Linked DNA regions of Homo sapiens: regions 2, 3 and 4 are each linked to region 1. The links come from fine-mapping of genetic effects on gene expression. A gene starts in region 1. Each other region holds a variant in brackets. All regions are shown on one strand. Distances are between the middles of the regions. Region 1 holds the start of ARPC3 (actin related protein 2/3 complex subunit 3). Region 2 overlaps GLTP (glycolipid transfer protein). Region 3 overlaps FAM216A (family with sequence similarity 216 member A). Region 4 overlaps PPTC7 (protein phosphatase targeting COQ7).

Evidence for each region. PIP is the estimated chance that this variant, and not a neighbour inherited with it, causes the effect.
Region 2: its variant is the best candidate, but not a certain one, in a credible set for the expression of ARPC3 in whole blood (INTERVAL, PIP 0.74).
Region 3: its variant is the best candidate, but not a certain one, in a credible set for the expression of ARPC3 in monocytes (BLUEPRINT, PIP 0.71).
Region 4: its variant is the best candidate, but not a certain one, in a credible set for the expression of ARPC3 in monocytes (TOPMed, PIP 0.62).

The regions. Positions count from the first base shown.
Region 1 is chr12:110,447,701-110,455,828 of GRCh38, reverse strand. ARPC3 (actin related protein 2/3 complex subunit 3) reads left to right here and starts at 5,492. Exons shown (of 7, transcript NM_001278556.2): 1 at 5,492-5,574. The coding sequence starts at 5,569. It overlaps GPN3 (GPN-loop GTPase 3), which reads left to right. Exons shown (of 8, transcript NM_016301.4): 5 at 1-14; 6 at 147-243; 7 at 1,958-2,086; 8 at 2,733-3,343. The coding sequence ends at 2,795. RefSeq lists enhancers at 5,279-5,378, 6,084-6,936.
Region 2 is chr12:109,858,148-109,866,275 of GRCh38, reverse strand. GLTP (glycolipid transfer protein) reads left to right here. Exons shown (of 5, transcript NM_016433.4): 2 at 7,535-7,593. It also overlaps the pseudogene RN7SL441P. Among named protein-coding and RNA genes, the nearest start is that of GLTP, 18 kb to the left of the region's middle. The variant C/T (reference allele first, on the strand shown) is at 3,619.
Region 3 is chr12:110,477,673-110,485,800 of GRCh38, reverse strand. FAM216A (family with sequence similarity 216 member A) reads right to left here. Exons shown (of 7, transcript NM_013300.3): 3 at 602-723. The region is part of intron 1 of LOC124903016 (a long non-coding RNA gene); the gene reads left to right. Among named protein-coding and RNA genes, the nearest start is that of FAM216A, 13 kb to the right of the region's middle. The variant A/GA (reference allele first, on the strand shown) is at 3,712.
Region 4 is chr12:110,551,431-110,559,558 of GRCh38, reverse strand. It overlaps PPTC7 (protein phosphatase targeting COQ7), which reads left to right. Exons shown (of 6, transcript NM_139283.2): 2 at 7,591-7,770. Among named protein-coding and RNA genes, the nearest start is that of PPTC7, 28 kb to the left of the region's middle. The variant C/T (reference allele first, on the strand shown) is at 3,573.

The DNA.
Region 1 (8,128 bases):
AAGGAAATTGAGAAGTGAGTTCACTGTTCTTCCATTATTATCAGATCTCAGTTGCAGAGATGAACCTTCTGTTTTATTTAGATGGGAAGTTTGGCTGGTTTATAAACCTAGTCTCCTGAATTCATCAGTCTTTCTGTCTTTTAAAGATTTTTAGATCCAGACATGTATTCTTTATTAGAAGATTCTACAAGTGACTTAAGAAGCAAAAAATTCAAGAAACTGACTAAAGCTATATGTGGACTGGTAAGCTTTTAAAGTTTGGATTTTTTGGCCAGGTGCAGTGGCTAATGCCTGTAACCCTAGCACTTTGGCAGGCCAAGGCAGCAAGATTGAGTCCAGGAGTTCAAGACCAGCCTGGGCAACATAGTGACACCCTATCTCTAAAAAAATTTTTTAAATTAGGCCAGGTGCAGTGGCTCACACCTGTAATCCTAGCACTTTGGGAGGCCAAGGCAGGCTGATCATTTGAGATCAGGAGTTCAAGACCAAGCCTGGCCAACATGGTGAAACCCTGTCTCTACTAAAAATACAAAAAAAAATTAGCTGGGCATGGTGGTGTGCGCCTGTAATCCTAGTACTCGGGAGCCTGAGACAGGAGAATCACTTGAACTCGGGAGGCGGAGGTTGCAGTGAGTTGAGATCATGCCACTGCAGTCCAGCCTGGGCGACAGAGTAAGACTTTGTCTCAAAAACAAAAAAAAATTAGGCCAGGCGCGGTGACTTACGCCTGTAATCCCAGCTCTTTGGGAGGCCGAGGTGGGTGGATCACCTGAGGTCAGGAGTTTGAGACCAGCCTGGCCAACATGGTGAAACCCCATCTCTACTAAAAAATACAAAAATTAGCCAGGCGTGGTGGTGCATGCCTATAATCCCAGCTATTCGGGAGGCTGAGGCAGGAGAGTTGCTGGAACCCAGGAGGTGGAGGTTGCAGTGAGCCGAGATCTTGTCATTGCACTCCAGCCCGGTCCAACAACAGCAAGACTCTGTCTCAAAAAAAAAAAAGCCAGGCATGGTGCTGCACGCCTGTAGTCTCAGCTACTGTGGAGGCTGAGGTGGGAGGATCCCTTGAGCCTGGGAGGTCAAGGCTGTAGTGAGCCATGATCAGATCATGTCACTGTGCTCTAGCCTAGGCAGCAGAGAAACCCTATCTCAAAAAAAAACAAAAACAAAAAGGGCGCCAGGTGTGCAGTGGCTCACGCCTATAATCCCAGCACTTTGGGAGGCCAAGGCAGGTGGATCACTTGAGGTCAGGAGTTCAAGACCAGGCTGACCAACATGGTGAAACCCCGTCTGTACTAAAAATACAAAATTAGCCGGGCATGGTAGGGCACACCTGTAATCCCAGCTACTCAGGAGGCTGAGGCAGGAGAATTGCTTGAACCTGGAGGTGGAGGTTGAGCAACAAGAGCGAAACTCTGTCTCCCCAAAAAAAAAAAAAAAGAAAAAAAAAGATGAAGTTTTTTGGGTTTTTTTCCTAAACACCTGGTCAAGTGTTTGCCTGTGTCCAGTCATTTGCCATATAAAAAGCACAGTTCAACCCTATTTTCTGCAAAGTGGAGGGAAAAGGGCTGTGGGCTGGTCAGTCAGCAGTTTAATTTAGAAGTAGTTATTGGTAGTGGCCAATAAATAAACTAACATCTTATTATTTCAAGCCATTTGGAGAGTTCAGGACTGTTTGTTCTCTTGTGAAATTTCCAGTGGTTGTTGAATTCAGATAAATAGCCGTGAAACAGTGTCTAGTTAAAGTAATAAGCTAACAAGTGTTCTAGCAGATCAGAAGTCAGAAAAATCAATGATTTACTCTCTGTGTCTAGCTATCCCTTCTCCTCCTCTTCCTGTAAACACATCAGTGTTTTTATTCAGAAGTACAAATGGTTATAAAACTCAAATATAAGTTGAAAATTATGTATTTTGCACAACTTCAGAATGAACTTTTCTTGAAATCCACAACTTGTAGATTGATGACTACAGCATGGTTCGATTTTTACCTTACGATCAGTCAGATGAAGAAAGCATGAACATTGTATTGCAGCATATTGATTTTGCCATTCAATATGGAGAAGACCTAGAATTTAAAGAACCAAAGGTAATTTCTGGTTTGGGGTGTTTGTTAGCTTTTGATAAAAATATTTGCCAGCACTCACTGGACTCTTGCATAATCCAGGCGACTCCTTAAATTAGTTTTTTGTCTTATTGATGGCAGTTAACTGGGCTTTTCTGGGTGATCTCTGAAATTAACACTGTACTCCACAAGCAGTATCACTTTTACTCTACTTTTGTTGAGGCAGTATGATGAAGCCTGTGTGTACTTAGAGCTTGGGTGTATGTGTAAAGAGGAGGTGAAATTGGGCTGCCCTCACGTATGTCATTGAGAAGACTAATGATAGTATCAGCTAAGCATTTTTTTATTTTTTTATTTTTTATTTTCCTGACCACTAGACTACCAGCGAAGTAAAGCACTATCACAGGAAATTAGCCAAGAATCGTCTTGAATGTAAATTCAAATGAGAAATGCTTCTGGGATAGAAGCACATTAATTTACTACATAACTGGAAAAAAATCTGTCAATCATGCCTTTTCTTACTATTAACAGTTACCTATAAGCAGCACCTGGAGCTGGTGCTGGGTAATTAGTTCCACATAGGGTATTACCTGAAAAATATATAAACACATACTAGTTCTGACTGAGGGGAAATGAATATATTTTCTATTTTGTGTTTCCATTGTGTCAGGAACGTGAAGATGAGTCTTCCTCTATGTTTGACGAATATTTTCAAGAATGCCAGGATGAATGAAGAGTTTACTAAAAGTAACCATCTAAAGAGCTTGTGGCCAAACCAGCAGAACATTCTTCTCTTCAAAGGATGCAATAGTAGAAAGCTACTTATTTTAATGAAAAAAAGTAAAACTTCGTTCTTTATCAGCCTCATGCCTGAATCAAATTTTTAATTATTCTGAAACTGCTGCTGTTTAAAGTGGAATCTTTTAGTATTATAACAGCATCACTTTAGATTTTGTAAGTCAAAATTGAAATGAATGCACATAGATTTATATATAAATTAGCACCTGAGCTAAGGTTAAGGCTGGTCTAAACTTATTTTCACTTTTTGTATTATTTTTGAGATGCAGGAATTACTGTAACAAAATATGTATGTCCGAAGGGAAAAAGCTGCAAGGATATATATAAGACCACTGCTTATCTGTATCTTCCCATTTTCCTATATTGAAAATGTATATTATTTATATAACTTAAAAAGTAAAAATAACTATGTTTTGAGATATGTATGTGTATATATAAAAGAAACAAAGGTTTTTAATGATTCTTGGACCTAGATAACAAGTACACTGCAGTGTCTAATTTGATTCATTTTAATTAAGCAAAATGTGGCCAAGCGTGGTGGCTCACACCTACAATGCCAGCACTTTAGGAGGCCGAGGCAGGTGGATCACCTGAGGTCAGGAGTTCAAGACCAACCTGGCCAACATGGTGAAAGCCTGTCTTTACTAAAAATACAAAAAATTAGCTGGGCGTGGTGGCGCGTGCCTGTAATCGCAGCTACTTGAGAGGCTGAGGTGGGAGAATCCCTTGAATCCAGAAGGTGGAGGTTGCAGTGAGCCAGGATCGCACCATTGCACTCCAGCCTGGGCAACAGAGTGAGACTCCATCTCAAAAAAAAAAAAAATGTGAGGACCTGTAAGTATCGGTGGTAGCTTATGCCTGGGGGCCAGGCTAGAGGGAAGGGTCGGGTGTCTACCCCATGGTCCACTCAGGGAGGAGCATGATGAGTGGGCAACATGGGGATGTGCTGGGCTGCCTGGGGACCTTCCTGTGGCCCTTAGAGGATAGATAGTGTGGAAACAGCCTGATCTCCCAGGGTTGCTAATTCTTAGAAACTTATTGTCACATGGGAGGGGAAGAAAGAAGAGGCAGATTTTCAGTTGCCCTCTTCCTTGGTCCTCCCTGGTTTAGCTTCTAGAGAGTATGGTATGTGCCTGTGGAGAAAAAGTGAAGGACCCGATTCCAGTGCCTTCCCCACTGGACACTGGGGTTTCAAAGATGAATCTGACAATTCCAGTCCTCGAGGATTTCACTGTCTCATAGGCAGGGCTGACAGAAATTCAGTAAATTTACACAAATTTACTGAAGTTCCGTGGATGCCAGACACTGGGGATAGAACAGGGATGCACAGTGCAGGCAGGGCCTTGCTCACGTGGGGCTGCCATGCTGGGCCTGTGAGACTGACCATGAGGAAGGAAACCTCAGAGAGAGGATGGAAAGAAAAGCAGAAAAGAAATGGAGAGTGATTATGGGGCTACTTTGGGCTCTTTGTCAAAAAAGACCTTGCCTAAAAGGTGCTATTTGCCCAGTCAGCTGAATGTGAAATCAGATGTGGGAACATGGGGTCCTATTTCAGGCTGGGAACTGGCAGAAGAAATGGCTCTCAGGCAGCAATGAACTTGACTTTTAACATAAGAAGTTTTCTAGTAATAAATAAGTTAAAACTCTGGGCTTTCAGTATGCTCCAAGCATGTAAGTTCTAAGCATTTTACATGTAATTCATTTCATCCTCACAAAACTATGAGGTAAATACTGTTACTGCCATTTTCAGGTGAGGAACTGAAGCACAGGCCAGTTAACTTGCTCAAAATTACAGAGCTAGTATGTATTGGAGCTGCGATTCAAACCTGGAGTCCAGTGCCCTTCAGTTTCTCCATTTTTAGATGCAGTGCATTGGGTTCATTCATTCACTCAAATATTGATGTTTCCTACATACCGTCACTGTTACGGGCGCAGGTGACAAAACGGACGAAGTGCTGCCTTTTTGGCATTCACAAGCACTAAGAGTAAACTAAATACAAGAATCGTAAGAACTAAGGGAAAAAGCGGGAGAGAAGGATAAGGCATGGGGCTGGAGTTGGGTGAACTGAAAATAGAATGAACGGAGAATGCTTCACAGGAAAGGTGATTTTTTTTTTTTTTTTTTTTTTTTTTTTTTGAGAGAGTCACACTGTCATCCCGGCTGGAGTGCAGCGGCGCGATCTTGGCTCACTGCAACCTCTGCCTCCTGGGTTCAAGCGATTCTCCGGCCTCAGCCTCCCGAGTAGCTGGGATGCTACCACGACCAGCTAATTTTTGTATTTTTAGTAGAGACGGGGTTTCACCATCCAGGCTGGTCTCGAACTCCTGACCTCAGGTGATCCACCCGCCTCGACCTCCCAAAGTGCTGGGATTACAGGCGTGAGCCACTATGCCCGGCCCTGAAAAGGTGACATTTGAAAAAAATACAAAAGAGGTGATTGATCTCAGATTCTGGAACCTCAAGACCCATCTCCATTCTGGGCGCTGCCTCACGCTGCACCACTCAAGGCCCCTGCCTAGTGCTCTGGCGCCTCCTTCAGATCCGCGCGGCCGCTGCAACCAGAAGCGGAACTGCAAGGCCGGAAGCTCCACGTCCGCACCCGCCCCTTCCGTTTCGCTTCCGCCTACCTCGCCCAGGCTGCCAGACCGGAAGCGCTCCGCTGTACCTGGATCCTGCTCCTCTGGGTTGAAACCCGGGCGCCGCCAAGATGCCGGTGAGGGTTCGATCCACGGTGTGGGGAGACAGCGGGGATTGCGAAGAGCAGAGAGAAACCGTGTGTGTGCCGAGAGAAGCGGGCGGCGGAAGGCAGAGAGGAAGCTGGGGCCCGAGAAGGAGGGAGGCGAGGGGAGGGGACCGGTTGCTGAAGGATTGGGGCGGCCCGGGGGTGCCAGTCGTGGGAGGCGGGGGCGCGGCAGGAGTGGGCCAAGGGTCCAGGGTGTGTGAGGAGGCCCTTTTCTCTCTCCGTCTACTCCTTCCGACTCCGGCAGGGTTCCCAAAGCCTCACTAGAGAGCGAAGCCAAGGGCTGCGCTTTTTATTTTTCATATTTCAAGTCCAGGGGTCTAGCTTCTCCTTTTTCTGTCAGGCCCACTTCCTCCTCCGCCCCGGGGTCAGGCTCCCTCTGCTGTTTGTCATTTGTCAGAACCCACTTCCCGGCAGCGGCGGCCATCCCGGAGCCAGCTGGGTTTAGGGCCCTCACAGACTCGTTCGGCGCCTGACTTCCAAAGATTTCCTTTTTCGTGTGCCATCAGAGTGGGAGTAAAAAATTATGACGGCCTGGTTGTACTTAATTTCTGACAGCCAGTTTGTGGGGTAGATTTATCACCGTCATGGTCTCCATTTTGCAGATTCGGGAAAAGGTGGTTCAGTTATTATGTGATTGTTCACACTTTTTTTGTTGTTTGTTTTTTGAGAGAGTCTCGTTCTGTCGCCCAGGCTGGAGTGCAGTGAGGCGATCTCGGCTCACTACAACTTCCACCACCCTGGTTCAAGCAATTCTCGTGCCTCAGCCTCCCGGGTAGCTGAGATTACAGGCGCGCGCCACCACGCCCAGCTAATTTTTTGCATTTTAGTAGAGACGGGGTTTCACCATGTTGGCCAGGCTGGTCTGGAACTCCAGACCTCAGGTGATCCGCCCCCTCGGTCTCCCAAAGTGCTGGGATTATAAGCGTGAGCCATCGCGCCCAGCCTGCTCACACATTATTTTTAACAAACGTTAACGAGCACCTGCTGCCTGCCAGGCTGTATTTACAGCAGCAAATAAGTTCAACAAATCCCTAATCTTAAAGAATGTACATTCAAATCGGGAGTCGAGACAATAAAAGTGTAAACATAATAAAGGAGATACATACGGTAGTGTCAGGTAGTGACAAATGCTATAAAGAAGCTAGATGGGTGGTCAGGCGCAGTGGCTCACGCCTGTAATCCCAGCACTTTGGGAGGCCTAGGTGGGCGGATCACGAGGTCAGGAGTTCAAGACCAGCCTGGCCAACATGGTGAAACCCCATCTCTACTAAAAATACAAAAATTAGCCAGGCGTGGTGGTGCGTGCCTGTAATCCCAGCTACTTGGGAGGCTGAGGCAGGAGAATCGCTTGAACCCAGGAGGCGGAGGTTGCAGTGAGCCGAGACCGTGCCACTGCACTCGTCTAGTGACAGAGTGAGACTCTGTACCACCACCCCCCCCCCCCCCGGAAAAAAAGAAGCTAGATGGGTAACAAGACAGTTGGTGAGAGGGAAGGCGGAGGCTGCTTTAGATAAAGCATACCTGTGATGAAAAGGAGCAAGCCATAGTTGCAAATACATTTTTTTTTTTTTTGAGACAGGGTGTGACCCTGTCTCTCAGGCTGCAGTTCAGTGACACAAACTCGGTTCAGGTGATCCTCCCACCTCAGCCTCCTGAGCAGCTGGGACTACAGGTGTACGCCACCATGCCCAGCTAAGTTTTTGTGTTTTTAGTAGAGACAGAGTCTCACCATGTTGTCCAGGCTGATCTCAAACTTCTGGGCTCAAGCAGTCCTCCTGCCTCACCCTCCCTAAGTGTTGGGATTACAGACATGAGCCACCTCGCTCAGCCTCACAAATGCATATTTTATGAATCCCATAATTACCATTTGACTCCTGAGCTCTGGGGTACACACTTTATAAATTATCCCATCTAATCCTCATAACGACCCTATGAAGTAGGTACCATGATTCCTGTTTTACAGAAGAGGAAACGGAGCCTCAGAGAAGTTAATTTGGACAAGGTTGCCTAGTAATGGTAAAACCAGGTTTTAAGCCAGGACTCTAGGCTGGGTGCAGTGGCTTATGCCTGTAATCCCAACACTTTAGGAGGCCAAGATGGGAGGATCACTTGAGCCCAGGAGTTTGAGACCAACCTGGGCAACATAATGAGACCCTGCCTCTACAAAAATAAAAATAAATTAGCTGGATGTGGTAGTGCATGTCCTCCCAGCCTCTCAAGAGGCTGAGGTGGGAGGATCACCTGGAGCCAGGAGTTTGAGGCTGCAGTGAGCTGTGATCCTGCCACTGTACTCCAGCCTAGGAAACTCTGTCTCCAAAAAAAAAAAAAAAAAAAAAAAGGACTCTAAATCCCTGTACTGGTTCCAATCGCACATAGAGCACCCTGGATTCACTCTGTTGGGTTTTGTTTGTTTGTTTTTTTGGGGGGAGGGGTTTGTTTGTTTGTTTGTTTTTGAGACAGAGTCTTGCTGTGTCGCCAGGCTGGAGTGCAGTGGTGCCATCTCGGCTCACTGCAACCTCTGCCT
Region 2 (8,128 bases), 590 kb after region 1:
GGATTGCACCTGTGAATGGCCACTGCACTCCAGCCTGCGCAATATAGCAAGACTCTTTTTTTAAAAAATGGTAGATGGAAAATATTTCACTTTTTTTTTGTTATTATTGAGATTAAGCATCTTTTCATTTCTATTGTGAATTGCCCATTGTTCTGTAGGGCTGTTGTTTTATTCTTACTGATTTGTAAGAGCTGTTTACATATTAGGGATATTAGCCTTTTTTCTGTTATCCTTGTTACACAGACTCTCTACTCTCTGCCCCCCTAGTTGTTTGGCTTTGGTTGGTGGTGGGATTTCTCGTCTCCCCCATATAGGAGGTTTCTGTTTTTTATAATTAGATTTATTGGTTTCTTTCCTTGTGCCTTCTGAGTTGAGTAGCGTGCATTGGAAAAAGCCTTCTCCATTAAACAGAAGGGGCCGTTTGCCAGCTGTTCCAGATAACCAAGGCTTTACTGTATTTGGAATCTGCTCACTCTAGTTGGGTCTGTGAAAGAAGATGGTGGGACCACATCTGATTTTTCTTTTTTTAAAGACAGCTTCAGGCCAGGCATGGCGGCTCACGCCTGTAATCCCAGCACTTTGAGGGGGCCAAGGCTGGCAGATCACTTGAGCCCAGGAGTTGGAGACTGGCCTGGGCAAAATAGTAAGACCCCGTCTCTATTTTTTTTTTTTTTCAAACAGAATCTCACGCGCAATCTCAACTCACTGTAACCTCCGCCTCCCAGGTTCAAGTGATTCTCTTGCCTCACCCTCCCAAGTAGCTGGGATTACAGATGTGCACCATTATGCCCAGCTAATTTTTGTATTTTTAGTACAGATGGGGGTTTCACCATGTTGGTCAGGCTGGTCTTGAACTCCGGATCTCAGGTGATCCGCCCGCCTCGGCCTCCCAAAGTGTTGGGATTACAGGCGTGAGCCACCATGCTCGGCCTGACCCTGTCTCTATTAAAAAATAAGAAGAAGAAGAATAAATAAAAAATGTTTAAAAGACAGCTTCCTTTCTCCCTGAAGGTCATGAACTAGAAAACCCTCCAAGTCCCTTCCCTCCCTCCAGGCAGACAGGTTCTGGGTGGCATTTCAAAGAGGCTGTTTGCTGACAACAATTGAAAAAAACAAGTTTGGAGTAACTGCAAAACTGGTCAAACAAGAAGGGTAATTTGGGGTTAAGGCTGCATTCTGTAGGAAAGGGAAGGCTTGAGAGCCTGGTAGAAACATGTCATGCTGTATTCAGAGCAGGCACAGGCTTGAATTTAAACTCTTAGAGGCTGGGTGCGGTGGCACACGCCTGTAATCCCAGCTTCTGGGGAGCTGAGGCAGGAGAATCACTTGAACCCGGGAGGTGGAGGTTGCAGTGAGCCTAGATTGCGCCACTGCACTCCAGCCTGGGCAACGGAGTGAGACTCTGCCTCAAAAAATAAAATAAAATAAAATAAGTAAATAAATAAAATAAACTATTAGAAAAGCCACCACATGCTTGGGAATTAAAATCGTCTTCTGGTTTCCTATTTTCTCTGAGTTCACAGGACCTCAAAGAAACATTCTTTGAGTTCAAAGAATGGTAACATTCTAGACAGAAAGGTTAAGGGTGTAGTGGAAGCAGCTTTGGCTCTGGAATTGTGTCTGAGTTCCTGGCACTCCCTGGAGTGTAACCTGGGCAAGTCATTTGGCTTTTCTGTGACTTGATGTCCTTGGACTGCACCAAAGGCAAACATAAGCCCAGAGCCTTGGGTGGGTGATGTTGAAACAGGCTTCAGCCCAACCATATACAGAGCACTTCCTGTTTGCATAGCACCTCTGGGCTGTAGAAACCGAAGGGCCTGAACCTGGAGTGGTTAAGTCACTTGGCCAAACTCACACCAGAGCTGAGATTCAAACCCAGGACTGTGGATGCCACTGCTTCAGTGCCACTGCCCAGGTTGACGCCACTGCTAATTGCAGGCAGCCCACCTCCAGATGCTTCCAAACCCACTTCAGCGTGCTTGTTTATGTAACACAGAGATGCATACAGAGCTGCCTTTCCTGCTGGTGGCTCCCTGTGGGTAGAGCATGGAAGTAGTCTGGGGTCTTGTTCCCAGCCCCTGCCTCGCCTCCCCTCTCTTCTGCTAGGCTCCCAGCCCCAGAAGTGCATTTGAGGCCCCACATTCCTCCCCTACTGTTGAGCGGGAGCTCTGGCCCTGTGTGGTGGCCCCACACACAATAACAGCTGCTGTTGGGGCCCAGCTTCTGCTGACCATGGTGGCCTCGTGACCCTCGTAGCTCATGGTTAGGAGAACACAAAACAAAAAGCCTTTCTCCCTGCCACCAGGGCAGGGCTGCTCAGAACTGCACAAGGATGCTGCATAACATTTTTCTGCATCTCTGAAATGCATGTTGAATGACCGGAGTCATTAAGAAAAGCTAATAAGCCACCCATGGTCGATGGTGATCTGTCATCAGGCCCTGCCGTCATCTCTTCTTCACTGGAAGGCTTTGGTTGAAAACCAGCCAGTGGCAGTAAAAACAATCGTGGTCAGTGCTTTGAGCCCTCACTTTGCACGTGTGACACCTCTCTCTCACAGCAGCCCTGCAGAAGAACATCCTAGAAGGATATCCGTTTTATAAACAGGGGAACTGAGGCCCAAAGTCCCTTCACATATCCTCTGTCATCTGGGTTGGATAGGTGTTTAAAACCAGTGTGTTGGGTCAGTCTGAACCATAGGAGGGTACAGAGATGGAGAGCCTGGCAGGGAAATACGCTGACAGATTCCACGTTTCCCACAGTCCATTCATTCACTCATTCATTCATTCCACAGATGTCATACAAGTACCAACTGGGGTCAGGCATCTGCTGGGTGCTGGGGGCATAGCAGGGAACCTTGTCCCTGCCCTCTTCAGAGCTCAAGTCTGGTGGCAAGATTGTTGGTTTAAAAAACAAAGGTGTAACACATGTGACTATGATCACTGTAACAGTAAAACAGACTTGAAAGAAAAAGTAGAAAAAGAAATAGGATTTTATGAGCAGAAAAAAAACCTGACATTACTTTTTTCAGTATTTTCTATGAGAAAATTCAAACATGTGGCGAAGCTGAAAGAATTTTACAGCAAATAGTACTCATACACCTATCATCTAGATGTTACCATTAATATTTTACTGTGCCTATCTATCCATATCTCTGTCCATCCATCCATCAGTCTAATGTAAGCCTTTGGACATTATGCATTTTTATTTTTTATTTATTTTTTTGAGATGGAATTTCACTCTTGTTGCCCAGGCTGGAGTGCAGTGGCGCAGTCTCGGCTCACTGCAACCTCTGCCTCCTGGGTTCAAGTGATTCTCCTGGCTCAGCCTCCCCAGTAGCTGGGATTACAGACATGCACCACCACACCTGGCTAATTTTTGTATTTTTATTAGAGATGGGGTTTCACCAAGTTGGTCAGGCTGGTCTTGAACTCCTGACCTCAGGTGATCCACCCGCCTCGGCCTTCCAAAGTGCTGGGATTATAGGCGTGAGCCACTGCGCCTGGCCCACATTTTAATTTTTTTTTAGAGATGGAGTCTCACTCTGTTGCGCAGGCTGGAGTGCAGTGACACAATCATAGCTCATTGCAGCCTTGAACTCCTGGGCTTGAACGATCCTC[C/T]CACCTCTGCCTCCTGAGTAGCTGGGACTACAGTTACATGCCACCACGTCCAGCTCATTATACATTTTGGGAAGATGAGGATGTAAAGCCGTCAGCTGGAGCTGAGGAACAGCCATACGTCTGCATGGGTTTTGCCAGTCCCCATGTAGCCCATCCATGGCACCTGCCTGGCCCCCTGTGAGGGTTGGAATTTGCACCCCCTGGCAGCACTGTAGTCACTGGCAGAGGAAAGAGGATCTTGGCTCCGGCGTTATTATGTAAGTTGAGAATGCACGGTCCTTTCAGAGAGGCAGCAGTAGCAGTGCTGGAAGAGAATACCTTCCAGGGCTAACAAGTGGCATGACCTCCCCAGGCTGGCCTCTACACGCAGCGGAGGTCAGTGATCCATCAGGTGAGGTTAAAGGGTGGCATGGAGTCGTCACCCCATTGATGCTTGGCAGGCCTGTCTGGGAGACCAGAGCACCCTGGATTCTTTGCCCGCACCCCTGGCGCAGCACCTCTGAGCAGCCTCTGACGTGACCACCCTAGGGAAGGCTCCAGCATGGCCCCTTGCTGGGAGATTTGCCTCTGCAGACGTTGGAAAGAGGCTCAGTTGCCGAGAGGAGACTGCTCGTGGCCTAGCATGACGACAGCATGCCCGGAGCTTGCAGCAGGTCAAGGTGGCAGCCCCAGCCCTAGCGGGGCCTCACAGGGGAGCACAGAGAAAGCAGCAGGGGCACAGGTCAAGGATGAGTCCCACTCGATGGAGGTTCTGGGGAATCCTGTGGCTTCCACGATGATGTCATTTGCTGGGTCACAGCACATGACCCTAGTAATGATATGAGGTCATAAAAATGATTGAAGTTCAGGTACTGAGTGTTCACCACTCACCGGGCACTCTGCTACATGTGTTTGGTGCCTTATTTTTTTTTGAGGTGGAGTCTTGCTCTGTCGCCAGGCTGGAGTGCAGTGGCACAATCTCGGCTCATTGCAACCTCTGCCTCCCAGGTTCAGGCGATTTTCCTGTCTCAGCCTCCTGGGTAGCTGGAACTACAGGCACCTGCTACCACGCCCGGCTAATTTTTGTATTTTTAGTAGAGATAAGGTTTCACCATGTTGGCCAGGCTGGTCTCAAACTCCTGACCTTGTGATCCGCCCGCCTTGGCCTCCCAAAGTGCTGGGATTACAGGCGTGAGCTACTGCGCCTGGCCTCGGTGCCTTATTTTTAATTTCTTAAAGAAGCATATGAAATAAGTACTACTATTGCCCCATTTGACACAAGAGGAAACTGAGGCACACAGCGGCGAGGAGACTTGCTTGGCTGGGGAGTGGTCGTGCAGGATTCTCACCCTGTCTGGCTGAATCCCTAGCCCACCTTCTTTCCATTGGGCTATGGGCTGTTTCCTTAAATGTTTAATGCTGTTTCTCTCATGCACCTCTTTTCATAGCTGCAATTAGAATGTTCCAGATGGCTGGCCAGGTGTGCAGGGTCACCCTGGGTGGAATTTGGCTTAAGGAAGTTCCACCCCTAGCCTTCTGCCCTCATGCGGTCACTTGGTGCCCACACTGAGGTCCCTGTCTGGCCTCCTGGGTATTGGCCTTTCACTCCCGTGGGATTGGCACCCACCTCTAGCCTGCTCTGGGGTCTTTGTCCCCTGGGCTCTGTAGCAGGCTTAGTGAGCTCACTTTTCTGGACCGCAACAAGGACAATGAAAAGGTGTCATGGAAGCCCGGTAATCTGTCTTCAGGCTCAAAGGTAAAGTCCACATCTAGCCTGCTCAGTAAAGAACCTGCATACTTCCTGCATGTAAGGGGCAAGATGTCCTGTGACAGCCTGCCATGGGGGTGACAAAAGAGGGAGAGGAGGAGAGGCAGGCAGCAGGCTGCTCACATTTCAGCAGATCCCAGCAGTCCTAGGCACTGCCAGGCAGTTTCCAGGTCTACATTTTATCATCTCCAAGGTGTTACCTATTATATGATGCTCCGACATATTATAACCCACCAAGAAAGGAAAACGCCTCCATTTAAGAACATTCTACTGGGTGTGATGGTGTATCCCTCTAATCCCAGCACTTTGGGAGGCTGAGGCGGGAGGATCGCTTGAGTCCAGGAGTTGAAGCCTGCAGTGAGCTGTGATCTTGCCACTGTACTCCAGCTTGAGTGCCAGAACAAGACCCTGCCTTTATTTTATGCATTTATTTATTTTTATTTATCTTTCTTCAGTTGCCAAAGGACCCTGTCTTTAAAAACACACATAGGTGCATGCTACTATTGAAGACAATGGCGAGAACAAATTAAGAGGGCAGGAGTCCAGGAGTGTATTTCATATAGCCAGCTGAAAACACTTTAAGGCTACCAACAAAGCAAAACCAGTTACCACTAGTCTTAAGAAGATAAACGAGGCTGGGCACAGTGGCTCACGCCTGTAATCCCAGCACTTTGGGAGGCTGAGGCGGGCGGATCACCTGAGGTTGGGAGTTTGAGACCAGGCTGACCAACATGGTGAAACCCCATCTCTACTAAAAATACAAAATTAGCTGGGCATGGTGGCGTGTGCCTGTAATCTCAGCTACTCGGGAGGCTGAGGCAGGAGAATCGCTTGAACCTGGGAGGCGGAGGTTGCGGTGAGCTGAGATTGCACCATTGCACTCCAGCTTGGGCAAGGGGAGCAAAAAGTCTCGGGGAAAAAAAAGTTAAACGTTATGAATGATGAAAAAGTCAACAGAGTAGATAAAGCTTTTGTATTCAAAAACTGCAATTACTTTTGCACCAATCTAATAAATATACGAGATTTGCACACTTCTTAAAAGGACTTTCTCTTGAACCTCTGTAGAAAGAACTGATTCCTCAGCAGCATCATGAAAATAAAGTAGTTAATATTGATGAAGCTACAAAATTAATGGCTCAGTTCTAATATAGTGGTGATGCATCAAATTCCCCCAAAGACCAATAAATCAAATGTTTTATACAATTAAAAAAAAACACATTGTACAGCTCTAGAAAAAAATTCTTTATATCCTTATTCTATGAGCTTTTTTCTATTATAAAAGTTAAGTACTTTTTTTTAAAAAAAATCTTTTTTGTTAAAAACAGACACATTAGCTTAGGTCTACACAAGATCCTGATCATCAAGATCTGTGCAAAAAAAAAATTATTTTTTGAGACAGAGTCTCGCTCTGTTTCCCAGGCTGGAGTGTAGTGGCGTGATCTCCCCTCACTACAACCTCCACCTCCCGGGTTCAAGCAATTTTCCTGCCTCAGCCTCCTGAGTAGCTGGGATTACAGGCGCAAGCCACCACGCCCAGCTAATTTTTGTATATTAGTAGAGACAAGGTTTCACCATGTTGACCAGGCTGGTCTTGAACTCCTGACTTCAAGTGATCCACCCGCCTCGGCCTCCCAAAGTGCTGGGATTACAGGCGTGAGCCACTGCACCAGGCCAAAAATTTTTTTTTAATTAGCCGGGTATGATGGTGCGTGCCTGTATTCCCAGCTACTCCAGAGGCTGAGGTGGGAGGATGGCTTGAACCCAGGAGGTCGAGGCTGTGGTCAGCTATTATCACACCACTGTGCTCCAGCCTGAGTGACAGAGCGAGACCCTGTCTCAAGATAAACCTCAAAGAACAAACAAATACCATTCTGATTCTAGAGATGAATCAAATGTGTGTCTTAGGATTGGATTGTTTATTTCAAGCCATCTTCATCATGCCTCTGTGGTTGGTGCTGTAGCCTCATTTGCCAGATAGGAAACAGGAAGCTGAGAGAACAGAGCTGGGGGCTGCACCCAAGCCCATGCTGCCTTAGTAACATCCAGAACAACTCAGCTCTCCCCGGGACACACCATGTAATCCACCCTTCCATGTCCCCATGGCCTGCGGTGGCCCTGAAAAATCACTCTTGCTGCGAATCTCAATCTGTCTTCTCATTTTGTCCCCAGATTGCCTTGGGTCCCCAGTGTTTACTCCCATCAAGGCAGACATAAGCGGCAACATCACGGTATGTACCTGGCCGGGCAGCCACAGCCCAAGACTTGCGTTAGGAATCTAAGCCCACCTGGGTTACCAGCATCATGGTCCCAGCTGCAAGCTTCCCACCCCAAGGAAGGGAATGGAGACATGGAAGATGGGCCCCAAGCTTGTCCAATCAGGGCTCAATGTTCTCTGCCCTCCTCCACAGTCTTGCCATCTGGTCACCAGTCTAGCCTGACTGGAACCAAAGTCTAATTAAAGGGTTGACCCTGAGAAGGAACCTGCTGGTTCTTTCATCTATCCCCACCAAGTAAGTAAGCTCCAAAGTCTACAGTCAGCACTGGTCTGGCCTTCCCCTTCTCCAATCCTGGTAGTTCCTGATGCCGCCTCCCCAGCCATAGACTGCCTGTGAGAATCCACCTAGGGCCCAGCCAAGGGCTTGGGACACACTGCATGATCTCATTTCTTCATCCCAGCAGCCCTTTGAGGCTGGTCCTGTGTTATCCCCTTTTTACAGATGAGGAAGCTGAGACTCAGAGGGGTTGAAGGACTCGCTTAAGGTC
Region 3 (8,128 bases), 30 kb before region 1:
AGATGTATGATTCCACTATATATACAAGATTTACTTTACTGAATACATGGTAAGTTCAAAGAAAATGCAAAATGTTAGAAAAATTTACCCTAATTCACATTGCTCTAGAGATACTTTTAGCAGTTACGATCGTTAATGGGATACAGGTAACCATTGTAAAATCCTTATTGCCATTTTCTTTTATTTATTTTTCTTTTTTTAAATCCTACTTGCAAGCTAATTACTGCCATTTTCTTTACCTGCTTTCTTCTTAATTTTGTAGTCCTTGAGTAAAATATGTGTGAAGTTGGGTTTCTATTTTCAAGAAAAGATGGAACTTTTCTTGAGCATCTCTGTGGTTGGGGCATTAAGCTTCCCCTCAGTAAAGATACATTAGATATGAAGTATCATAAAACCATGAAATAACTCTTATGATAAAGAATGTATAATCTTTACATTCATTCATGAGTTTACTCAAAGATATTTATTGACTCCTAGACAATTATACTGCATATGCCTTGTCATCTGCAGTATCTCACCCTCTAAGCAGCTGATCTTCAGTAAAAAGTTCGGCTCTGAATACAAAGAGTATTGGTATTTAAATATGTCCCTGTTAGCATACCTTGAAAAAGGACGCCTCCATCATTGATTTAGAGAGGTGGATTGTTTGATTTTGGGGAGTTTTCCATAACTCTTGCAGCTTAGCTATGTGTGAGTTCACTTTGTATCCATCTTTGATTCTATCTGTAGGCAAAGACATCATGTGAATTTCAGAGGCAAAGATCAGTTCAACAAACTGAATTATTAAGATCTAGATATTTAGGCCGGGTGTGGTGGCTCACGCCTGTAATCCCAGCACTTTGGGAGGCCGAGGTGGGTGGATCACGAGGTCAGGAGATCGAGACCATCCTGGCTAACACGGTGAAACCCTGTCTCTACTAAAAATACAAAAAATTTAGGAGAATGGCGTGAACCCGGGAGGCGGAGCTTGCAGTGAGCCAGGATAGCGCCACTGCAGTCCAGCCTGGGCGAAAGAGTGAGACTCCGTCTTAAAAAAAAAAAAAAGATCTAGATATTTACATGTGTCAGTGATTATCCTGGAGTAGTACTGAATATTTTCACTCAGACTTAAATTTGAAGAGACTGTATGGTATGCCATTTGGTTTTAGAGCACACAAACAACATCAAAGATACTTGTAAATAAATATTTTATTTATATATAATACATTATTTTGAACTCAGCTAAGATGCAAAGTGTTGACAGTAACATCATGTCAGAAACATACCAAAGAGAAAATATACACGCAGGATTTGTGCTTTAATGATTTACAGTAATATTTTATTATCATTTAACTTTACTATATAGTTTTTTTTTTTTTTTTTTTTTTTTTTTTTGAGACGGAGTCTCTCTGTGTCCCCCAGGCTGGAGTGCAGTAGCGCGATCTCAGCTCACTGCAAGCTCCGCCTCCCCAGTTCATGCCATTCTTCTGTCTCAGTCTCCCGAGTAGCTGGGACTACAGGCACCTGCCACCATGCCCGGCTAATTTTTTGTATTTTTAGTAGAGATGGGGTTTCACCGTGTTAGCCAGGATGGTCTCGATCTCCTGACCTCATGATCCTCCGCCTCAGCCTCCCAAAGTGCTGGGATTACAGGCGTGAGCCACGGCGCCCGGCCTAACTTTAGTATATAGTTTTTTAAATCTTTTTTTAAGAGATGGGATCTCTGACGCCCAGGCTGGAGTGCAGTGGCATAATCATAGCTCACTGCAGCCTCAAACTCCTGGGCTCAAGAGATTCTCCCGCCTCTGCCTCTCAAGTAGCTGGGATTATAGGTGTGAGCCACTGCACTCGGCCTTAAAATTCTATTCTGTATTAGACTAGAGTAACACAAATTTTATCCCTTTGGAGATGTAGTATTAACATGAAAGACTGCAGAAATTTATCAAAATTTATTTTTACATAGTTTCAGTTATTTCATTTTTTGTTGTTGATTTTTGTTTGTTTTTGAGATGGGGTCTCACTCTATTGCCCAGGCTAGAGTGCTGGCACAATCTCAGCTCACTGCAACCTCCACCTCCCAGGTTCAAGCGATTCTCCTGCCTCAGCACCCCAAGTAGCTGGGATTGCAAGCATGCACTACCAGCTAATTTTTGTATTTTTAGTAGAGATGGGGTTTTACCATGATGGCTAGGCTGGTCCCAAACACCTGACCTCAGGTGATCCGCCTGCGTTGGCCTCCCAAAGTGCTGGGATTACAGGCATGAGCCACCATGCCCAGCGTATTTCATTGTTTTAAAAACAGTTGTGGACAGCATAAAAGAATAACCTTTTAGTAAAAAATAAAAGTTGAAACATATTCCCAGAAGAATGGGAACTGGTTTTCAGTTTCAGACATACTGAGACTAGTAATTTAGGGTATAAGCTTCACTAGCAGTTTTGGGAAAAATAGTCTCTGACAATTAAATCACGAAATGCCTCTTTTTTTTTTTTTGAGAAGGAGTCTCGCTCTGTCGCCCAGGCTGGAGTGCAGTGGCACCATCTCGGCTCATTGCAAGCTGCAAGCTCCACCTCCCGGGTTCACGCCATTCTCCTGCCTCAGCCTCCTGAGTAGCTGGGACTACAGGTGCCCGCCACCACGCCCAGCTAGTTTTTGTATTTTTAGTAGAGACGGCGTTTCACTGTGTTAGCCAGTATGGTCTTGATCTCCTGACCTCGTGATCTGCCCGCCTTGGCCTCCCAAAGTGCTGGGGTTGCAGGCATGAGCCACCGCGCCTGGCCCCGAAATGTCTCTTTTTATAATAATACATCCCTCTTCCCTGCACACTCCCTTCTCCAGGCAACCACTGATGTGCTTTCTATTACCATAGATTCATTTGCATTTTCTTGAGTTTGATATAAATGGGAATACACAGTACTCATTTTTTGTCTGGTTTTTCACTCAACCTAACGATTTTGAGATCCACTCATGTCACATGTAACAAATAGTTCATTTATTTTTATCATTGGGTTATCTTTTTTTTTTTTTTTGAGATGGAGTCTTGCTCTGTTGCCCAGACTGGATTGCAGTGGCGCCATTTCGGCTCACTGCAAGCTCCGCCTCCCAGGTTCATGCCATTCTCCTGCCTCAGCCTCCCGAGTAGCTGGGACTACAGGCGCCCGCCACTGCGCCCGGCTAATTTTTTGTATTTTTAGTAGAGACGGGGTTTCACCATGTTAGCCAGGATGGTCTCGATCTCCTGAGCTTGTGATCTGACCGCCTCAGCCTCCCAAAGTGCTGGGATTACAGGCGTGAGCCACCGTGCCCGGCCTGTTGGGTTATCTTCTATTGTATATATGTTTACACTGTTATTTGATTATGTACCTGTTGATAGACATTTGGGTAGTTTCCACTTTTTGTCTATTACAAATAAAGCTGGAAAGACACATTTTAAGTTAAAAGTTTGCGTCCGGGTGTGGTGGCCCATGCCTGTAATCCCAGCACTTTGGGAGGCTGAGGCGGGCAGATCACTTGAGGTCAGGAGACCAGCCTGGCCAACATGGCAAAACCCTGTCTCTACTAAAAATATATAAAAGTTAGCCAGGTGTGGTGGCGTACACCTGTAGTCCCAGCTACTCAGGAGGCTGAGGCAGGAGAATCTCTTGAACCCAGGAGGTGGAGGTTGCAGTGAGCCGAGATCGCAACACTGCACTCCAGCCTGGGTGACAGAGTGAGACTCTGTCTCAAAAAAAAAA[A/GA]AAGTATATAGTTAGTTGAATTCAATAAGCACATTTTTGTTTCAATATTATTAATAACAGGCTATTTCAGTTTTGTATTAAACTTTAAATTTAGTTATTTCTTCAAGATTTTGGCAAGTTGGATACTACAGGTAAGGACTAACTAGTTGACCAAGAAATGGAAAATCATTTGGAAATTGTATTATGACCCTTGAAACATAACTTATAATCTGTAATAATATGAATGCCAATTTAAGATTTTTAAAAGTTTTTTGTTTTGGAAATCCTTTTTCAAGTTGTAAACAGAGGCTATTTATATAAGAATATGAATTGTGTCCTTAATAAACAATATTTCTGAGATGCATATTATATTTTGGACCAACACTTAATTTCTCAATAGCTTGATAACATTTCTTTACAGAAAATGAAGCACTTAAAAATAAATAGGCTGGGCATGGTGGCTCATGCCTGTATAACCCCAGTACCTTGGGAGGCTGAGGCAGGCAGATCACCTGAGGTTGGGAGTCGAGACCAAGCCTGGGCAACATGGTGAAACCCGTCTCTACTAAAAAAAAAAAAAAACCACACACACAAAATACTTAGCCAGGCATGGTGTCACACCCCTGTAATCCCAGCTACTTGGGAGGCTGAGGCAGAAGAATCACTTGAACCTGGCAGGCAGAGGTTGCAGTGAGCTGAGTTACTGCAACTGCACTCCAGCCTGGGTGACAGAGTGAGACTGACTCAAAAGAAAAAGAAAAATAGTATGGCAGTGCCTCGAACATTTAAACATAGAATTGCCATATAATCTAATAATTCCACTTCTGATCCAGCAATTCCAAAAGAACTGAAAGCAGGGACTCAAACAGATTATTTATCCATGCTCATAGCAGCATTACTTCATAATAGCCAAAAAGTGGAAGAAACCCAAGTATCCATCAACAGGTGAATATATAAACAAAATGTGGTATATACAAACAATGGAATATTATTTAGCTTTAAAAAAATAAGAGAATTCAGACACATGGTACAATATGGATGAACCCTGAAGACATGCTAAGTGAAATAAGCCAGTCACAAAGGACAAATATTGTATGATTTAACTTTTATGAGATACCTAGGAAAATCAAATATATACGGAGTGAAAGAATGGAGGTTGCAAGAGGTCAGGGGAAAGGAGGTATATAGGGAATTAGTGGTTTTTTATTTTGTTTTTAAATTTTCTTTTAGAGACAAAAAAAACTAAAGTTAATTTTATGTTGCCCAGGCTGGTCTCAAACTCCTGGGCTCCAGCGATCCTCCAGCCCTAGCCTCCCAAAGTGCTGGGATTACACACACGAGCCACTGCACCCACCTGAGAGTTAGTGTTTTATAGGTACGGAGTTTTAGTTTGGGAAGATGAAAACTTTCTGGAAATGGATGGTGGTAGTGGTTGCACAACAGTGTGAATATACTTAATGCCACTGAAATGTACACTTAAAAATGATTAAAATGGGCCAGGTGCATTGGCTCATGCCTATACATCCCAGCACTTTGGGAGGCTGAGGCGGGCAGATCACTTGAGTCCAGGAGTTTGAGACCAGCCTGGCCTACATGGTGAAACCCTTAGGCTGGGCGTGGTGGCTCACACCTTTAATCCCAGCACTTTGGGAGGCCGAGGCGGGCGGATCACGAGGTCAGGAGATCGAGACCATCCTGGCTAACATGGTGAAACCCCGTCTCTAGAAAAATATAAAAAAATTAGCCAAGCATGGTGGCAGGCGCCTGTAGTCCCAGCTACTCAGGAGGCTGAGGCAGGAGAATGGCGTGAACCCGGGAGGTGGAGCTTGCAGTGAGCCAAGATCGTGCCACTGCACTCCGGACTGGGCAACAGAGTGAGACTCCATCTCAAAAAAAAAAAAAAAAAAAAAAAAAAAATTAGCTAGGCGTGGTGGGGGTGCACCTGTAATCCCAGCTACTCAGGAGGCTGAGGCAGGAGAATCGCTTGAACTCAGGAGGCAGCGGTTGCAGTGAGCCGAGATCGAGCCATTGCACTCCAGCCTGGGCAACAAGAGCGAAACTCCATCTCAAAGAAAAAAAAAAAGATTAAAATAGTAAATTTTATATTATGTATATTTTACCACAAATAAATAGTTAACCAACCCAAGAACTTTTGAATATACTGCTTGGACTATATGCCCTCAAACAAAAACAACTCTAAGCAAATACTGATCTCTAATTAACTACTAGGCTTTTTTTTGTTGTTTTGTTTTTTGTTTTTTTTGGGTTTTTTTTTAGATGGAGCCTTGCTCTGTCGCCAGGCTGGAGTGCAGTGGCGCGATCTCTGCTCACTGCAACCTCCAACTCCCTGGTTCAAGTGATTCTCCTGCCTCAGTCTCCCAAGTAGCTGGGATTACAGACACGCGCCACCATGCCCAGCTAATTTTTTGTATTTTTAGTAGAGACGGGGTTTCATCATGTTGGCCAGAATGGTCTCAATCTCCTGACCTCGTGATCCACCTACCTCAGCCTTCCAAAGTGCTGGAATTACAGGCGTGAGCCACTGCGCCCAGCCTACTAGGCTTCTTTTTTTTTTTTTTCAGAAGCATGTGTTAGCACTTTAGAAACTACTTTTTTATACATCTTAGGACGAAGCAAATAATATATTGTAGTTAATAAGCAGGTCTCACACTTTTGGAGACGAGTTACCTATTAATATGGAAAGAGGAAAGCACAGAATAAACCCTGTTTGTTGGATTGGAATTTGGAGTTAGTAGAAATATTGAAATAGATATGTATGGGTATGTATGTGCTCACAGGTAAATGCACACACATTTCTTTCCCAGCACTGTCCTCGGAGAAAGTCTAGAAGCAATGAAAGTATATTATAAATAAGCACACCTAGCACCCAGATCTTGGTTTCTACGTACTCTTCTCTACTTTAAATATATAATTTTTTTTTTTTTTTGAGACAGAGTCTCGCTCTGTTGCCCAGGCTCACTGCAAGCTCCGCCTCCCAGGTTCACGCCATTCTCCTGCCTCAGCCTCCCGAGTAGCTGGGACTACAGGCGCCAGCCACGACGCCCGGCTAATTTTTTGTATTTTTAGTAGAGACGGGGGTTTCACCGTGTTAGCCAGGATGGTCTCGATCTCTTAACCTCGTGATCCACCCGCCTCGGCCTCCCAAAGTGCTGGGATTACAGACGTGAGCCACCGCGCCCGGCCTTAAATATATACAATTTTTTAAAAAGGGGCTCTATGTTAGTTTCATTTTGCTGCCATAACAACACAACTTTAGCGGCTTAAAACAACACTCACGTATTGACTCATAGTTCTATAGCTCAAAAGACTGAGTATAACATGAATCCACTGGGTTCTCTGCTTAGAATCTCACAAGGCCAAAATCAAGGCATCGGGGTGCCTGGGCTGGACTGGGGTGCCTGGAGCCTGTAGTGGTTCATTCAGGTTGTTGGCAGAATTCAGTTCCTTACAAAACCAAAGTCCCTATTTCCTTGACATGTGGCTCTCTTCATCTTCAAGCCAACAATGGGGTGTTAAGATCTCTCCTTTCACATCTAACTGCTTCTCTTCCCCACATCTGTCTGACTTCAGCCAGAGAAACTCCTCTGCCTTGGGCTAGGCTGGGCCCACCCAGAAAATTCAAAATAACATCTCTTTTGAGGGTTATAACTTAATTTTACCTGCAAAATTGCTCCTGCCATGTAACATAACATATTTACAGGTTAGAGAGATTAGAGTGTGAACATCTTTGGGGACCATGCTGCCTACCACAGGCTCTTTGGAGAAATGGCAGACATCAAGGGTAGAACAGGGACAGTACAACGTTTTGTGCTAAAAGATAAAAGTTTTCAAAGGATAATGGAGACAGAGAACAAGAGCCATCTTTAAAGGGCTCCCACTGGCCAAATCTGGGATAATTTGAGCATCAAAATAAATAACAGATTTAAAGTAAAGTATTTAACCTATTCAATGGTATAAGAATCCATGTGTTGACAATTATATAATAAATATATAAATTGAAAAATGGTAGAGAAAGGGAAGCTCTTCATTAGAAAGCCATCTGAAAAATGTAGAATCAATGATGGAATTAGAAAAAGTCCATATGGCTGGGCACGGGGGCTCACGCCTGTAATCCCAGCACTTTGGGAGGCAGAGGTGGGCAGATCACAAGGTCAGGAGATTGAGACCATCTTGGCTAACATGGTGAAACCCCGTCTCTACTAAAAATACAAAAAATTAGCCGGGCATGGTGGCAGGCACCTGTGGTCCCAGCTACTCGGGAGGCTGAGGCAGGAGAATGGCATGAACCCGGGAGGCGGAGCTTGCAGTGAGCCGAGATTGCGCCACTGCACTCCAGCCTGCGCGACAGAGGGAGACTCTGTCTCAAAAAAAAAGAAAAAGCACATATTTCTAGCCATCTTAATCATAATGGATTTAG
Region 4 (8,128 bases), 100 kb before region 1:
AGACGGGGTTTCACCATGTTGGACAGGCTGGTCTTGAAATCCTGACCTCAAGTGATCTGCCCACCTCGGCCTCCCAAAGTGCTGGGATTACAGGCGTGAACCACCACGCTGGGCCCGAGACCCCATTTCTTAAAAAAAAAAAAAAATTTTTTTCTTCTTATAAACACTTAATGATGGCAGACACCCAGAATTACTCTTTTTGCTTCCCTTTTTAACTCTTAACTGTAGAAACCAGGCATGGTGATTTGTGCTTGTAATCCCAGCACTTTGGGAGACTGAGGCAGGAGGATCACTTGACCCCAGGAGTTTGAGACCAGCCTGGGCAACATAATGAGACCGCATCTCTACAAAAAAAATTTTTAAAAAAATGAGTTGTGTGTGTTGGTGCATTCCTGTAGTCATAGCTACTCTGGAGGCTGAAGTGGGAGGATCCCTTGAGCCCAGGAGTTCAAAGTTGCAGTGAGCTGTGTTTGCACCACTGCACTCCAGCCTGGGTGACAGAGCAGGATGCTGTTAAAAAAAGAAAAAGGGAAAAAGCATCAGTCTATGGAAAACTTAATAAAATACTTTGTAAAAACATAAATACTGTAACTATTTTCTAATTGCTCGTTTTGCTTCATAAAACTGACATTTCCATTGAAAAGATAAAACTAGCCTGGGCACGGTGGTTCACACCTGTAATCCCAGCACTTTGGGAGGCCGAGGCGGGCGGATCATGAAGTCAAGAGTTTGAGAACATCCTGGCCAACACGGTGAAACCCCGTCTCTACTAAAAATACAAAAAATTAGCGGAGCGTGGTAGCTACTTGGGGGGCTGAGGCGGGAGAATCACTTGAACCTGGGAAGCGGAGGTTGCAGTGAGCCAATATCGCACCACTGCACTCCAGCCTGGGCGACAGAGCGAGACTCCGTCTCAAAAAACAAAAACAAACAAAAACACTAAAGGATTTTTCTGTGCCCTATGGTCTCTTCTCAATCTTTTGCTCAGCTATTTCTGATATGTAACCATTATCTTAATCTAATAGTGATTTTAATTGGATTTTGGGTCAAGGGAAACACTTAAGCTAGATGTGTGCTCACAGAATGTTATTAATGGAGACATAAGATGATTACAGTGAATTAAAGGAAATAGCTTCTATATTCGGTGCAACCTCTTTATCTTGGCATTCAAGGCCCTTCTAGTCATTAATTCAGCCTCCTTTTTAGCTTCACTTCTCTCTACCTCCATAGAGATTATATCATTCTGACAAACTGGATACCCTACCACTAAGGTATCAATTCTCAGATTTTCTGGCCCCAACTTGCCTTGCCAGCCGCAAACTCATAGTTCCTCACTTTATACACAACACTTCCACAAAGATGCCCTGCTGGCACCTGAAGTTTGACATACCCAAGACAGAATTAAATGTCTTTTAAAGGCATTTACACACCCTTGCCAACTGTAGAATAATCTAATCAATATTTTCTAATTCCCCAAATCCAGAAACAGTAGTTCCCTCTTATTTGAGGTTTCAATTACCCACTGATGTGTTTTGGCATTGTCCCCACTCAAATTTCATCTTGAATTGTAGTTCCCATAATAATCCCCATAAACCCTCATGCTGCTATTGTGATAGTGAAGTTTTCATAAGATCTGATGGTTTTATAAGGGGCTTTTCCCCCTTTGCTCAGCACTTCTCTCTCCTGCTGCCATGTGAAGAAGGATGTGTTTGCTTCCCCTTCTGCCATGATTGTAAGTTTCCTGAGGCCTCCCCAGCCATGCAGAACTGTGACTCAATTAAACCTCCGTCTTTTATAAATTACCTAGTCTCAGGTATTTCTTCATAGCAGCATGAGAATGGACTAATATACCCACATTACCTAACAATAATACAGACAGAGACCACATTCACACAACATTTATTATAGTATATTGTTATAATTATTCTGTTTTATTATCGTTGTTAACCTCTTGAGTATGCCTAATATATGTGTTAAACTTGGCCAGATCCTGTGGCTCATGCCCATAATCTCGGCACTTTGGGAGGCCAAGGTGTGAGATTGCTTGAGCCCAGAAGTTTGAGACCAGCCTGGACAACATAGTGAGACCCTGTTTCTACAAAAACTTAAAAAAAAAAGTAGCGGGGTGTATCAGGGTGTGTCTGTAATCCCAGCTACTAAGGAGGCTGAGGTGGGAGGAATACTTGAGCCCAGGAGTTCAAGACTGCAGTGAGCTATGATCAGGCCACTACTCCAGCCTGGGCTAGAGTGAGACCCCATCTCTTAAAAGAAAACAAAACTACTACTAAGTCATTTTAGTTTTTCTTTTGTTGGTACTAAGTTTTTGGAATCCAGAATGTATTTTACACTTCATAGCAAGCACTTCTCAATCCAAACAAGTGAGATTTTAGACTCAATAGCCACATGTGGCTAGTGGCTCCCATGTTAGACAGCACAGGTCAGTAGCATAAAGAACTTTAGAGTTCTTGAACTGGCATTCTTGATTTTCTACAACTTTCGCTACTGCCCTTCATTTTTCAGCTTCTCCCTGCTCACCCAAGCCCCAGCATCTAGTTGTCTGCCTTTCTTTTCCTCTTGTTATCCTTCCCTGCCGTGGAAATCTGGCTGACCCCTGCCAGGGCCTATCCGAATGCCACTTTCAGAGCAGGCTGGCACTGTTCTTGAGGCGCTGCATTCTCGTGGTGTCCGTAAGCACTAACCACTGGCTGTTGACCCTCCTGCAGCAGTGTTTATGGGAGCCGTTTGTCTGGTTTCTCTGTGAGAAGTCTAGCACCCCACTAGCAGGGGAGCTTCTCAGAGACCGGCTTTCTCAGCCGTCTTATTTCCTAGCGCAGCATGCACAATGTGGTGGTCCACGTGTGGCCTCCATTTGCTCTTAGGGTATTCTTATTCTTATCCTTTGCTGTTTGATAGTTGTGTTCCTGACATCTTTGGGATCTTAAGCAATTTCTCCTTTAACAGTTTTCTTTACCTTTGACATGTATTCTGAATGAAATTTCCCTTTATATCTGGATCAGTTCCACTGTTTAAAGGGTATTCTTGCTCTTTGCAGTCTGAAGCTTTTGCTTATGCAATAGAGGACATATTAATTTCTGTGTAGAAACAACCACCTAATATGAATAAAATTAGGTTTCATATGTACGTGTAGTAGGTTATTCTAGTTTTAGTCTGATTCTCATCCCAAATACAACTCTTCCCCTTATATAATTTAGTTATATATATGCACTGTATTAAGGCTTTTTTCCCTGCAGCTTTATTGAAGAGTTTATATGCTTTTTGAATTTCTCTCTCCCCTAAAGAGATTTGGTCAGTGGTGTTTTGCTTGGCATCCTTTGCCCGTGTAAAAAAGCAAACAGGTGCCCAAAAGGTTGTGCTGTATTCTGGGAGAAATCTGATTAATGTTGAAGGGCTGTGTCAGGTCAGACTCAACCTGCTGACAGATTATTTAGTGAGTGCGAGGATCGAGGATCAACTCTAAACGTTATCTTAGATTTTAATGGTTTTCTTGTGAAGAGCATTTGCAGATGAAACCAATTTGTATTTAAAGTTAATTGTAGTTGTACCAGAGACTA[C/T]TTAAGAAGAAATTCTTCCCTGAAGCAGGCAGTGGTTTGAAAAGAATGAATGATTCATCAGATAGTGTTGCAAGGCTTATAATTATATTCTGTGTTTTAACATAAATTGTTGTGTTTTAAATTATGGTGAAATCTTACTCCTAGTAAAATAAGAGTTTCTCCAAAGAAGTTCCTATTGAAATGATCTTAAATTCTTTTAATATAAGTTTCCCAAACCTCTTCACAACTCCTTGAAAAACAATGAAATGTGCTGTTCCTTGTAAGATAGATCCCTAGTTAGCCCGGTTGCTTCTCTTTCCCTCACCCCTCAATCCACGTGTTCTGTTTCATGGATACCAAATGTCTGCACGCCTCTAACCACACTGCCAGCAGATTGCGAGTGGACTATGAAATGGATCTCTTACTTAAACTCCTTCCGCTCTTGCTCTCCACACAGCAGGCAAAAGGGTCTTTTTTCTTTTTAAACTTGTTATCATTGTTATTATTTAAATGTTGTGTTATGGAAAATTTCAAATATATATCAAAGTAGAGAGATGGGTGTTCTTCTTATTCAGCTTCAACAACGATCCATTCATGGCCAGTCTTCTTTCATCTGTGCTTCTGTCACTCCCCCTTCAACCCCTTAAATATTTTGAAACGAATCCCAGAGTTTTTATTACTTTAATTAGCTAATTTGGAATTGCCCTGTCATGAAATTTGGTTTATTGGTTGGTCACATAGGTGGGGAAAGTTGCTGTCCCAGTGGTGATACACTATTTGTTGCCTTCTTTATGTCTTCCAATTCTGTTTCCTCTTACTTTTTCACGATGTGTTCCCTTTCTTTTTGTTAACTGCCATCCCCAGAGAAATAGTTTCACATGTCCAATTCATGTTAAGCCAATTTTTCAGGGATGTATATATAGGCACTCTGCTACTTTTGTACCAAATACATTCTTAAAGTTGAATGTACAAAAAATAAATGTGTGTATGGGAAGGATGTTTCATGCTCAGAAAGTTTTAAAAATTAAAAAATCCCTGTTTTAAAAAATCATATGATACATGCTCATGATAAAAATAAAATTAATACAGAATGGTATGAAGTAAAAGGCAAAAATTCCCATTTTGTTCATGGATCGTTTTCAGTTCCTTATTTCTAAAGCAACCATTGCTAATATTTCTTATGGATCCTTCCAGAAAGGCCATTTAAAGCCTTAATAATGTATATTTTTGACATTTTCTCTCAGTGTCTTTGAATTTAGTAGATAGAAATTGGTTTTAGTGTTGGAAAGAATAGCTTGGTGTTTTGCAAGAGTTTGAGTAGAAGATTGTATGATGGCTTTGATATTTTATTGACTTTCATAAACACTAATTTCCTCTTGATAAAGGAGCTCTAAGCAGACTCTGAACTCATCAGCAACTCTTTGGGCCTACGAAAATCTCTATACTAGTACTATCCAGTAGAAATATAATGTGAGCCACATATGTAATTTTAAATTTCCTAATATTCATATTAACTAAAAATAAAAAGAGGCCAGGCATGGTGGCTCACGCCTGTAATCCAAGCATTTTGGGAGGCTGAGGCAGGAGGATCACTTGAGCCCAGGAGTTCAAAATAAGCCTGGGCAATACAGTGAGATCCTGACTCTGTATTGCCAGACAAACAAAAACTAGCTGGGTGTGGTGGCATGACCCCGTAGTCCTTGCTACTCAGGAGGCTGAGGTAGGAGGATCACTTAAGCCTGGGAGTTCAAGACTGCAATGAGCTGTGATTGTAACACTACACTCCAACCTGGACAACAGAACAAGCCACTGTCTCTAAAAATAATAATAGTTAATTTTTTAAAAGGTGAAATTTGGCCGGATGCAGTGGCCGATGCTTATAATCCCAGCACCTTGGGAGGCCGAGATGGGCAGATCACTTGAAGTCAGGAGTTTGAGACCAGCCTGGCCAACATGGCAAAACCCTGTCTCTACTAAAAATGCAAGTCAGGTGTGGTGTCGAGCACCTGTAGTCCCAGCTAGGGAGGCTGAAGCAGGAGAATCACTTGAACCTGGGAGGCAGAGGTTGCCATGAGCTGAGATCACGCCACTGTACTCCAGCAGCCTGGGCGACAGAGCGAGACTCTGTCTCAAAAAAAATAGGTAAATAAAGAAAGGTGAGCTCAGTCTTGATAATGCATTCTCTTTGGTGCATTATATCTAAAATATTCTTTTTCTGTTTCATTTTTTGAGACCAGGTCTTGCTGATCCACCCACGCTGGAGTGCAGTGGCGTAATCATGGCTCACGGTAGCCCCAACCACTGGGGCTCAAGCAGTCCTCCCGCCTCAGCCTCCTGAGTAGCTGGGACTACAGGTGCACACCACTATGCCTGGCTAATTTTTTTATTTTTAGTAGAGTCAGGGACTCACTGTGTTGTCCAAGCAGGTCTTGAACTCCTGAGCCCAAGTGATTCTCCCACCTTGGCCTCCCAACGTGCTGGGATTATTGGCATGAGCCACCATGCCTGGCCCAAAATACAATTTCAGTATGTAAGTAATGAATATAAAAATTAGAGATTTTGGGGGCCGGGCGCAGTGGCTCATGCCTGTAATCCCAGAACTTTGGGAGGCCGAGGCTGGCAGATCATGAGGTCAGGAGATGAGACCATCCTGGCTAACACGGTGAACCCCTTCTCTACTAAAAATACAAAAAAGCCAGGCGTGATGGCACGCACCTGTAGTCTCAGCTACTCGGGAGGCTGAGGCAGGAGAATCCCTTGAACCCAGGAGGCGGAGAGGTTGCGGTGAGCCGAGATCACGCCACTGCTCCAGCCTGGTGACAGAGCGATGGAGTTTCACTCTTGTTGCCCAGGGTGGGATGCAATGGCGCGATCTCGGCTCACCGCAACCTCCACTTCCCAGGTTCAAGCAATTCTCCAGCCTCAGCCTCCTGAGTAGCTGGGATTTCAGTTGCCTGCCACCACACCCATCTAATTTTTTGTATTTTTAGTAGAAACGGGGTTTCACCATGTTGGTCAGGCTGGTCTCGATCTCCTGACCTCAGGTGATCTACCTGCCTCAGCCTCCCAAAGAGATTTTACTTTTTTTCATACTAAGTTTTCAAAATCCACTGTGTGTGGTTTTGTTTGTTTGTTTGTTTTTTTGAGACGGAGTCTCGCCCCATTGCCCAGGCTGGAGTGAAGTGGCACGATCTTGGCTCACTGCAAGCTCTGCCTCGCGGGTTCACACCAATCTCCTCCCTCAGCCTCCCAAGTAGCTGGGACTACAGGCGCCTGCCACCACGCCTGGCTAATTTTTTGTATTTTTAGTAGAGACGGGGTTTCACTGAGTTAGCCAGGACAGTCTCGATCTCCTGACCTCGTGATCCGCCCGCCTCGGCCTCCCAGAGTGCTGGGATTACAGGCGTGAGCCACCGCGCCCGGCCCACTGTATGTTTTATACTTAGAGCATGTCTCAAGTTGGGCTTCCCTCATTTCGGGTGCTCAGTAACCATGTAAGGAATGGCTGTTGTATTGTACAGTACCGCCCTCTACAGGGTAGAAGGAGAGGGGATGGGATATGTTCTCAGTTTTGTTCTTTATTTCCCAGCGATTGACCAATGTTTGGAGTTAAAAGGTTGCCGCTTTTGATGTTCTTTGTGATCTCCAGCTCTGACTGAATTGTATCGTCACTAGCATCAGCACTTTGCTTAAAAATCAATTTTCATTCTTATAAAAGACAAAGTATTAATGACACAAATATGTCTATACACAGATGCTAATCCTGCTGAAATTGAACTCTTGGCTGGTAGGCAATGCCACCCTGTGGTAGCTCAAAAGTTTATTCATCAATATATGAAAGGCCAAATTCTAAGTAGTGAATGTGGCTTAGGAGTGTTAGTGTAGAATACATTAAACGTGAGTGCTTTTTATTCTGAATTTTGGAGTGAATGTATGTAGTAGCATGTAGTGAAATTAACTGTTAGGAGAAAACAGAGGTAAGAATTCCTGAGAAGTTGGTAAGATTGTTCTTTTACTGTAATTTTTGTTTTTTCTTCAGGGGTTGCAGATGGTGTAGGAGGCTGGAGAGACTATGGAGTTGATCCATCTCAATTCTCAGGGACTTTAATGCGGACGTGTGAACGTTTAGTAAAAGAAGGACGGTTCGTACCTAGTAATCCCATTGGAATTCTCACCACAAGCTACTGTGAGTTGCTGCAAAATAAAGTCCCTTTGCTCGGTAAGTGGGTATCTTATGTGTTTTCCTCTAAAGAAGCCCCCTAGATAGTTAAAAACAAAACCAAGAAAATCATTTATCGGACCAGCTTTTTTCTGAGGCTCTTCCTACTAAGCAGAGTGTGATAGAGAAACTATAGGCTAACCGCTGGGCGCAGTGGCTCACGCCTGTAATCCCAGCACTTTGGGAGGCTGAGGTGGGCAGATCACCTGAGGTCGGGAATTCGAGACCAGCCTGACCAACATAGAGAAACCCCATCTCTACTAAAAATACAAAAATTAGCCAGGCATGGTGGCGCATGCCTGTAATCCCAGCTACTTGGGAGGCTGAGGCAGGAGAATCACTTGAACCCCGGGAGGTG